Regions from separate parts of the Homo sapiens genome. Here region 1 is linked to region 2. Evidence: fine-mapped QTL for protein levels in blood plasma. Region 2 holds a variant in brackets. A gene starts in the other region. All regions are shown on their forward strands.

Evidence for each region. PIP is the posterior inclusion probability: the model's chance that the variant is causal. Protein levels are from antibody-based Olink assays in UK Biobank. Linkage for the fine-mapping came from a reference panel and not from the study's own genotypes, which makes the PIPs less certain.
Region 1: RFC4 starts here. The variant in region 2 is fine-mapped to the plasma level of the RFC4 protein (UK Biobank, PIP 0.97).

Annotation. Positions count from the first base shown.
Region 1 is chr3:186,805,502-186,810,860 of GRCh38, forward strand. It overlaps RFC4 (replication factor C subunit 4), which reads right to left and starts at 981. Exons shown (of 11, transcript NM_002916.5): 1 at 789-981. RefSeq lists enhancers at 537-1,148, 1,149-1,760.
Region 2 is chr5:140,377,465-140,382,845 of GRCh38, forward strand. The region is part of intron 1 of ANKHD1-DT (ANKHD1 divergent transcript); the gene reads right to left. LOC124901087 (a long non-coding RNA gene) reads left to right here and starts at 2,571. Exons shown (of 2, transcript XR_007058967.1): 1 at 2,571-5,381. RefSeq lists a silencer at 4,651-4,770. The variant T/G (reference allele first, on the strand shown) is at 2,398.

The DNA of each region.
Region 1 (5,359 bases), not on the chromosome of region 2:
GTGAGCCATCTCGCCTGGCCAGGGACCTATTTTCATGGCAGAGTCAATGCTTACCTACCTTCAGAGACTTTCTGTGGGGAAGGGAAGGTGGGGGACTCTGTTGTTAAAATAGAAACAGCTGTTTTTCTCATAACACACTCACTTGAAGAAATCAAAACAATGCATAAAAGCATGAGAGATTTAAAAAAGTAATACAAAATCCCACCCAGAAGGTAACTATTTCTAACATGCAGGTAAACATTCTTCCAGGCTGTTTTCAGGGATAAAAAGCATCATTAGCTCGCCTGAAAAGTCCCCGGTTAATTCTATTTTTTTCACTGCTACATGCCCTGGTGCCTAGAACAGTGCCTGGTACATGGTAGATGCTCCGTAATATTTGGTGAATGAATTACCATCTATGATACCCGGTTTCCTTTTCTGTTAAAGGAGCTAAGGCCTATTCCACAGGACAACTGAGTTAAATAAAAGAATGTATGCAAATACATAGTTCCTTGCTTGGCATATGGGGATATGCTCAATAAAATAAATTTTTAATATCTGTTAGCAGCCAAGGTTTTTATAACGTTACTGGATTAGTCCATCCCTGCCTCGGGCTGTTAAACATTAATACAGCCCAAAGCCGGGGCCTGCAAGATGCTGTCCGGAACCACCATTTCACCAAAGGGCGCGGCCAGGGCATGAAAGGGCCACTAGGCTGGGGCCCCGAAGGAGGTGGAAGACCTCACAAGGGGCATCAAGGGCAGGAGTGGGGAAGGCGAAGCGGGCTTGCAGTTCCTCCAGCAGGTTACCAGTTAGCCTGGCTTCTCGTGCAGGTCACCGCCGCCGGCTCGTTCCTCAGGTTTCCGCGATACAAAAAGGACGAGATGGTCTCGAAGTCTTAGCTCCGTCACCTAATCTGAGAATAACGGGCCCAGGAGACTTACGATCACTGATGTCCCCACAGTCGCCTCAGTTCCCGCCACGGAACGGCGGGCGAAAAGCAGGGCGGGAATACGCCGGTAGGAATACGCGGGCACGTAACGCGTCACTTCCGGTGCTGGGGCGCGCTGCTTGCGGAGGGAGTTTGCCCGTATACGGTTTTATTTAGGCAGGTGATGAGCCAGCCGGACTTTCAGGCAGAACTGGACTGGAACAGGCATGGCCTAGGAGGTGTCCCTGTCCCGGTGCATTGCTCCCACTTCAGACGTGAGCGCGACCCTCCCGGAAGGAGTAGAGGTCGCGCGGGCACGGCGCTGGGGCTGCTTACCTGGCAGGCTCAGCAATGAGGGCGGGGCGGCGGCGCGCGGGCCTCTGGAACCCTGCCGGTCCACCGAAGGTCCCGAGCCCGCTATCTTCGTAGGTGCGGGCCTCCGGAGGTGCAGGTCCCTGTCCTCCTTGTCCTGCTTCGTCGCAGAGCAGAACGCGTGTGCTTTAAGGGCAGAGACATCTGAAGATGCTTTGCCTTGCCCTCTTGAGGACACGTGGCTTTTACTTCTAATAGTGTCTGCGTGTTGTGGAGAGAGAAGACCATGCAGCTGTGGACATCTATTATAATTCCTGAGCCCCACTTAGAAATCTGGAAGTGAAGGCGTTCAATAAAAGTTAAAGGACTGATAATCATGTTTAGCCCCACCAAGCTTCATGCACAGTGGGCTAGGCTGGTGCCTGAGCCCACTGCTTTTATCTCTTCCAAGTACTTGGTTTAGCTCTGAAATGCTCCTTAATCCTATTGAAACCTGACCCTTCTCAAAGGCCACCTTCTCTACTGGTCTTTACTAATTACTAACCCATAAGGTTGTTCCGGGTCTTCTTCAAATGACTGTTTTGTTTGGCACAAACTCAGCATGATATCCATTGTTAACTTTGTACGTTTTTTTCATTTATCTTGCAACAAATGCTTACAGAATGTCCACGCACTGTGTTAGATGCCTGCAGATACAGCAGGGAAAACGCTCGAGATGCCCTCAAGTAGCTTTACAGACTAGGAGAGTGACAGACAATGTGATGTGTGGTTATGCAGAGGAAGTAGGGGGCTGTGAGAACTTACATCCCAGGCCTAACCCAATCAAGGGTTTAACCAAAGTAAGGATGCTTTATGCTACTTTGTAATTTCCACAGAGTCTGATACAATCTCTGGACAGTATAAAAAACACACAGGTTATCTATCTGGTCACCGGTTTACATTACCATAACTTATCAAACTGTATACTTAATGCTTGTATATTTTATTGTATGTAAATTATACCACAATACAGTTGATAAAACAAGATCTATGAAAATAGATGGTATCCATTTGCTACCTGAAGGAACAGCACAACCACAGAGAGGGGGATGTTATGATCTCATTTAACAGACAAGTTGGGCTGGGCACGGTGGCTCATGCCTGTAATCACAGCACTTTGGGAGGCCGAGGTGGGCGGATCACCTGAGGTCGGGAGTTCAAGACCAGCCTGGCCAACATGGTTAAACTCCATCTCTACAAAAATACAAAAATTAGCCAGGTATGATGGCAGGTGCCTGTAATCCCACCTACTTGGGAGGCTGAGGCAGGAGAATCGCTTGAACACGGTAGGTGGAGGTTGCAGTGAGCTGAGATCACGCCATTGCATTCCAGCCTGGTGACAGAGCGAGACTCCGTCTCAAAAACAAACAAACAAAAAAACAGACAAGCTGATGGATAAGTGGTCTTTGTCCATTTTGGCTGCTATGTTTATAAGCCATAGATTGGGTGGCTTATAAACATCATAAATTTATTTCTCACAGTTTTAGTGGCTGGGAAGTCCAAGATCAAGGCACCATAAGATTCAGTGGCTGGTGAGGGTTCACTCCCTCATTGACAGCTGTCTTACTGCTGTAACCTCACTTGGTGGAAAGGGCTAACTAGTTTTCTCCAGCCATCTCCTTTATGAAGGCATTTCTCCCATTCATGAGGGTTCCACTCTATTGAACCAGTCACCTCCCAAAGGCCCCACCTCCTGATACCATCACCTTGGGAGTTATAATTTCAATAACTATAATTTGGGGGTGTGGGGACAAACATTCAGACTACAACAAAGGTTAATAGCAAGTAAGTGGCAAAGCCATAATCCACATCTTGGACTGACTCCAGACTCAAAGCTTGTGATCAGTCACTGGGCAGGTTCAGGGCTGGCATAGAGGTGCCTTAATGTTAAATAGAAAAGAGAGACCTGAGTGGTATCTTGTTTTGGCAATTGATTTTAAAAAAATGCCACCTTTCTGCAGGTACATTCAGCCCTTGGTGGGATGAAAAACTTGGTGATAAGAGATTGGGCTGGATTTCTATCTCCACTTGCCCCTCAGCTGACTACTCCGTTATTGTACACAATTATAGGCAGCATCCTAATCCAGGTAGTTGAAGAACTTGTGTGCACACCAAGCATTGTCTCTCTCACCAGAACAAGAAATGTCCTTATATAAATACTTATCTTTTTTTGTGTCATACATATGTGGGTGTTCACATGATTAAACCAGTTTAACAAGTTTATAATAGCTTTTATTATTTATTGTAATGGGCATTCATTCAGTTACTACTATGATACTATTATGTGGAGATTTGTAAAGTTTTTTTGTTTTGTTTTATTTCTGTTTTTTCTTTTTTGAGACGGAGTCTCACTCTGTCACCCAGGCTGGAGTGCAATGGCTCAATCTTGGCTCACTGCAACCTCCGCTTCCCAGGTTCAAGTGATTCTCCTGCCTCAGCCTCCCAAGTAGCTGGGACTACAGGTGTGCACCACTGCACCCAGCTAATTTTTGTATTTTTTTTTTTAGAGATGGGGTTTCACCATGTTTGCCAGGCTGGTCTCGAACTCCTGACCTCGTGATTGCCCACCTCGGCATCCACCCACCTTGGCCTCCCAAAGTGCTGGGATTACAGGTGTGAGCCACCGTGCCTGGACCCTGTGAAGTTTTTTAATCTTAAAAGAGGGCTTTCAAAAGTTGAGTACAGCTTTATTTAGTGCGTTGCCCTTTGAAACAGATGATACAAAACTGTACCTGCATGATGTGTGTGTGTGTGTGTGTGTGTGTGTGTGTGTGTGTATATATATATATAGAGAGAGAGAGAGAGAGAGAAAGAGAGAGAGAGAGAGCACGAGATCTCCCTATGTTTAGTCTTGAACTCCTTGGCTCAAGGGATCCTCCCACCTCAGCCTCCCAAAGTGCTGGGAATACAGGTGTTAGCCACTGCCTCTGGCCCTGGATTATGTTTTTTTTTAAATTTTTTGAGACACAGTCTCACCCTGTTGCTTAGGCTGGAGTGCGGTGGCACTAACTCAGGTCACTGCAACCTCCACCTTTTGGATTCAAGTGATTCTCGTGCCTCAGCCACTTGATTACAGACACATGCTGCCAAACGTGGCTAACTTTTGTATTTTTAGTGGAGACAGGGTTTTACCACGTTGTTCAGGCTGGTCTCAAACTCCTGACCTCAAGTGATTCTCCCGCCTCAGCCTCCTAAAGTGCTGGGATTACAGGCGTGAGCCACTGTGCCTGGCCTGGATGATATTTTATAAGGTCACTAGGAAAGGAAAAGACTTGGGTAGCAAATGAAAAAAGAGAGCTGTCAGGAGTGGAAAAGATCAGATAGTGGATGATAGTGTCATTTTGAAATCAGAAAATGCAGGCTGAGTGCAGTAGTTCATGCCTATAACCCTAGCACTTTGATAGGCCAAGGTGAGAAGATCACTTGAGCCCAGGAGTTTGAGACCAGTCTGGGCAACACAGCTGAGACCCCATCTCTAGAAAAATAACAAATAAATAGAAAAAAAAATCAGAAAATGCAGGTGTAGTGGATGCTCTGGTATGCTACCTTTCAGGACTGAGATACTCACTCCCCCAGCTGCTGGGAGGGTTGCTGGCCAACTCTTGAATGAGTCCCTGTCCAGCAACTGTCTTCAGCCAACAAAACCACTTTATCAAAAATTGCATTCCTTTTGTGGAGGCAGCCCACCTCCAAGGGCTAGTCTAGGAGGATGCTACAGTTTGGATGTGGTTTGTTCCCGCCCAAACTCATGTTGAAGTTTAATTGCCAGTGTGGAGGTGGGGCCTAGTGTGAGGTGTTTGGCTCACTGGGGTGGATCCCTCATGAATAGACTGGTGTCATTCTCAAGATAGTGAGTGAGTTCTTGTTCCTGGGAGATTGTATTCGTTCTTATGGAAATGGATTAGCTCCTGAGAGAGCAAGTTGTTATGAAGTGGGTCAGCCTCCTTGGTCCCCTCACTCAGCACGTGCCTGCTCACCTTTCTGCTTCTCCTCCATGTCATAAGGCAGCATGAGGCCCTCACCAGAAGCTGAACAGCCTGGCGCCATGCTCTTGGACTTTGCAGCTACCAGAATTGTGAGCTAAAGAAATCTCTTTTC
Region 2 (5,381 bases):
TCCGCCTCCTGGGTTCAAGCGATTCTTCTGCCTCAGCCTCCGGAGTAGCTGGGATTACAGGTGCCTGCCACGACGCCCGGCTAATTTTTGTATTTTTACTAGAGACGGGATTTCACCATGTTGGCCAAGCTGGTCTTGAACTCCTGACCTCAGGTGATCCAACTGCCTTGGCCTCCCAAAGTGCTGGGATTGCAGGCGTGAGCCACTGCGCCCGGCCCTCCAATTTTCTATTTCTATTAGGCCAGCCTACTAACTGTGCTGTTCCAGATGTTCTATATATGGCATGACTTTCTTCGGCCTGTTTGAACTAGCAAGTACTAGGGAAGGTATTTTAATAAACCTATTATGATAATAAATTCGTCACTATCTCCTTGAAGAATTTGTCAATTTTTGCTTTTATGTATTTTTAAATGCTGTGTTTTGAGTGCTTTCTAGTTTAGAATTGTTATATCTTACTGGTTAATTGATCCTTTTATTATTTTGTAATGATTTTATTTTGTAGTGATTAGTAATTCTTTCTGCTTAATAGTTATTTTGTCTGCTAGAAATATAGTTAAATTAGCTTTCTTGTGATTAGAATTTACCTATATTATATATTTCCATTCTTTGAATTTTAGTGTTTCTGTGTTCTTATATTTTACCTGTATTTTTCGTAATCATCATGTGGTCAGATTTAGTTTTTTTTGTATTTACTTTTATTTTATTTTACATAAAAAATTTTTTAGAGGCAAGGTCTCACTCTGTCACCCAGGCTGGAGCGTAGTGGCATGATCTTGGCTCACTGCAGCCTCAACCTCCTGGGCTGAAGAGATCCCCCTGCCTCAGCCTCCTGAGTAGCTTGGACTACAAGCACACACCTCCGTGCCCTGCTTATTTATTTATTTATTTTTTATTTATTTATTTGAGATGGAGTCTCACTCTGTTGCCCAAGCTAGAGTACAGTGGTACGTTCTTGGCTCACTGCAACCTCCACCTCCCGGGCTCAAGCAATTCTCCTGCCTCAGCCTCCTAAGTAGCTGGGATTACAGGTGCATACCACCATGCCCATCTAATTTTTTTGTATTTTAGTAGAGACGGGGTTTCACCATGTTGCCCAGGGTAGTTTCAAACTCCTGAGCTCAGGCAATCCAGCCGCCTTGGCCTCCCACAGTGCTGAGATTACAGGCGTGAGCCATCGTGCCTGGCCACTCTGCTTATTTATTTATTTTTTCTTAATTTTTGTAGAGACAGGGTCTCACTATGTTGCCCATTCTGGTCTCAAACTCCTGGCCTCAAGTAGTCCTCCTGCCTTGACCTCCCAAAGTGCTGGGATTATAGGTGTGAACCACTGCACTGGCCCAGGATTTTGTTTTTGTTTTTTTTAATTAATTAATTAATTAATTAATTATTTTGAGACAAAGTTTCGCTCTTGTTGTCCAGGCTGGAGTGCAATGGTGCAATCTTGGCTCACTATAACCTCTGCCTCCTGAGTTCAAGAGATTCTCCTGCTTCAGCCTCCCAAATAGCTGGTATTACAGGCATGCACCACCATGCCCAGCTAATTTGTTTTTTTTTTTTTTTTTTTTGAGATAGGGTCTCACCTGTCATGCAGCCTGAAGTGCAGTAGCACAAATATGGTTCACTGCAGCCTCAAACTTCTCAGCTCAAGTGATCCTCCCACCTCAGCCTCCTGAGTAGCTGGGAGCACAGGTGTGTGCCACCATGCTTGACTACTTTTTAAAATTTTTTGTAGAGATGGGGTCTCACTATGTTGCCCAGGCTGGTCACAAACTCCTGGGCTCAAGCAATCCTCCTGCCTTGGCCTATAGAAGTGCTGGGATTACAGGCGCCAGCCACTATGCCTGGCCAGGTTTTTTGTTTTTAAATCCAATTTGACAATCCATCTTTTAGCTAGAAAATTTAGTACATTTACATTTAGAGTAATTTCTAATATATTTGATTTTGTTTTATTTGCTTTTTATTTCCTATTTTTCTGTTCCTCTTTTCTCCTTTTCTTACCTTATTTTAGATGGATCGAGCTATTTTTGTACTTTTTCTTTTCCACTTTCCTCCCTTTACTTGCTTGGGATATAAGAAAAAGGGAGGTCAAAGATGACTCCCGTGTTTTGGGTCTCAGCAACAGGAAGAATGGAATTGCCATTGACTTGAGTTCATATTTGGGCATTATGATGCTATTTATTTATTTATTTATATTTTTGAGATGGAGTCTGGCTCTGTGTCCCAGGCTGGAGTGCAGTGGCATGATCTCAGCTCACTGCAAGCTCCGCCTCCCGGGTTCATGCCATTCTCCTGCCTCAGCCTCCTGAGTAGCTGGGACTACAGGCGTCCGCCACCATGCCCAGCTAATTTTTTTGTATTTTTAGTAGAGATGGGGTTTCACTGTGTTAGCCAGGATGG[T/G]CTCGATCTCCTGACCTCATGATCCACCCGCCTCGGCCTCCCGAAGTGCTGGGATTACAGGCGTGAGCCACCGTGCCCGGCCCATTTATTTATTTTTATTTATTTATTTAGCAGAGACAGGTTTCACCATGTTGGCCAGGCTGGTCTCGAACTCCTGACCTCAAAGCAATCCACTCGCCTCAGCCTCCCAAAGTGTTGGGATTACAGGCGTGAGCTACTATGCCTGGCCGTATGATGCATTTTAGACAATCAAGTAAAGATGTCAAATGGGCAGCTGGACATGCAAATCTGAAGTACAGAAGGAAATCTGAGTCAGAGATAAAATTTATAATTTTATTAGAGTACAAATTATATTGAAAACACAGACTATATACGATTGCCAAGGAAGTACAATCAGAGAACAGATCCAAGGACCAAGTCTTAGAACTCTTCACTGTTAAAAGGTTAAGAGATAGAGGAGCAACCAGGAAAGGAGAAGACTGAGGAGTGGCCAGTGATATGGAATCAAAACTGGGAGTTAAGAAAATGTTTCAGGGAGAATTGATTTTGGTTAATTTGTCTTGGGGTCATTCTAACTCTTTACTTTTGTGTTATCTCATTATGAATTTTAAAGTTAAAAATTATATTTAACCTATCATTTTAGTTGTTTTTTGGGGAAGATTGTTCAGAAATTATAATCCATACAATGTCAGAAATGGAAATTGTACCAACCCTTTTTTCAATATTATAAAGAAAAACCCTGGCTGGACGCAGTGCCTCATGCCTTATAATCCCAGGATTTTGGGTAGCTGAGTGGGGAGGATCGCTTGCGGCCTCAGGAGTTCAAGGCCAGCCTGGGCAACATAGTGAGACCCTGTCTCTACAAAAAAAAAAAACATAAAAAATTAGCTGGACATGGTGGCACATCCTGTCGTCCCAGCTACTCAGGGTGGGGGTGGGGATGGGGCAAGGGGTGCTCTAAGGTGGGAGGATCACTTGAGCACAGGAGTTTGAAGCTATAGTGAGCTGTGATTGCACCACTGCACTCCAGCCTGAGTGACACAGAGAGATCCTGTCTCAAAATAAAGTCTAAATTTAAACTATACTTAAAAAAAAAGTACTGGAGTTTCACTCTTGTTGCCCAGGCTAGAGTGCAGTGGCATGATCTCGGCTTACTGCAGCCTCCACCTCTGGGGGTTCAAGTGACTAACCTGCCTCAGCCTCCCGAGTAGCTGGGACTGTAGGCACCTGTCACCATGCCCATCTAATTTGTTTGTAGTTTTAGTAGAGACGGGGTTTCTCCATGTTAGCCAGGCTGGTCTCCAACTCCTGACCTCAGGTGATCCACCTGCCTCAGCCTCCCAAAGTGCTGGGATTACAGGCGTGAGCCACCGTGCCCAGCCAATAATTTTTTTTTTAGAGATAGGTTCTCGCTATGTTGCCCAGACTGGTCTCAAGCTCCTGGGCTCAAGCAATCCCCCGCCTTGGCCTCCTAAAGTGCTGGGATTACGGCATGAGCTACTGCACCCAGCCAAGTGATACTCTGGGCACGTATTTCTCTCAATCGATAGCTACTTAGACTATCATATCAGGGTTTTTCTTTTTATTTATTTAATTTATTTTTGAGACAGGGTCTTGCTCTGTTGCCCAGACTGGAGTGCAGTGGTGCAAGCATAGCTCACTGCAGTCTTGATCTCACAGGCTCTAGCAATCCTCTTGCCTCTGCCTGCCTAGGCTGAGGGGCTACAGGACTACAGGGACCGAGGGGCTACAGTGCAGCTGGGACTACAGGTGCACACCACCACACCTGGTTAATTTTTAAAATTATCTGTAGAGATGGTGTCTTGCTATATTGCCCAGGCTAGTCTCAAACTCCTGAACTCAAGCAATCCTCCCACGTTGGCCTTTCAAACTGATGGGATTACAGGCATGAGCCATTGTGCCCACCCTAAATTTAGACTTTAAAAATAAATGTATATTTTACTCATTTCAACAGCATCTACATATTGTTGAAAACATCTTCATTTAGACTTGCTTATTTAAGCATTCAACAAACACTTATTGAACATCAACAATGTACTGTCAGATAGGTTTCTGATTTCATGGAGTTTACCTTGTAGTGAAGGAGGGGCAAAGAAAAGGTAAGATAATCTCAGATAATGACAAGTACTCTGAAGAAATTAAAATAGGATATGATAGAAAACATTACTTAAGATGGGTGTTCAGGGAAGACCTCTCTGAGGGGATTGCCTTTAAGCTGAGACTTGAGTGACAAGGAGTAAGTGAAAGTATCATCTGCCTACAGTCAAGGAGTGACACATATACACATAAATTTAAGTCCCCAGATTAAGAACCACTGTCAGCCAGGAGCAGTGACTCATGCCTGTAGTCTCAGCACTTTGGGAGGCTAAGGTGGGAGGATTGCTTGAACCCAAGAGTTTGAGACCAGCCTGCATAAGAGGGTGAGACTCCATCTCTACAAAAATAATAAAAAAATAAGCTAGGCATGGTGATGCGTACCTGTAGTCCCCTTAGCTTGTTCAGTTCAGGTCACGTGAGCCAAGATATTCCTTTCTTGGCTCTAAACCATAGGTTTGAGTTTTTGTCAGTAAAATAGGGCCAAGAGCCTGGATTTTCAGTCTAGGGTGCTGGAAAGGTTAATTGATGCCTGTAACATTCTTTAAGATCTTTAGATGAAAGACTCGGGGCTGTATACAGAATTACCAAGGGCTTGGAAGCTCTTCCCTTCCAAGCCCCAGGGAAAATCCCTTCATATCAGTAACCTAGGCCTTTCCTCTCCAGTCTGTAGCTGTGGGACAATGGTTCTCAAACTTTTGCAGGCATTAGAATCAAAGGTTGTGATGTGAATTCCCAGGCTCTCTGCCTGAGATTCTGATTCTCCCTGAGGTTCTGAATTCTTACCTTCTTAGTTCTGTATTCTTCTGTACCCTTGTCTGGTGTCTCATGCTTCCCAATACTCTACATTTTTGTCTCTGCAAATGGAT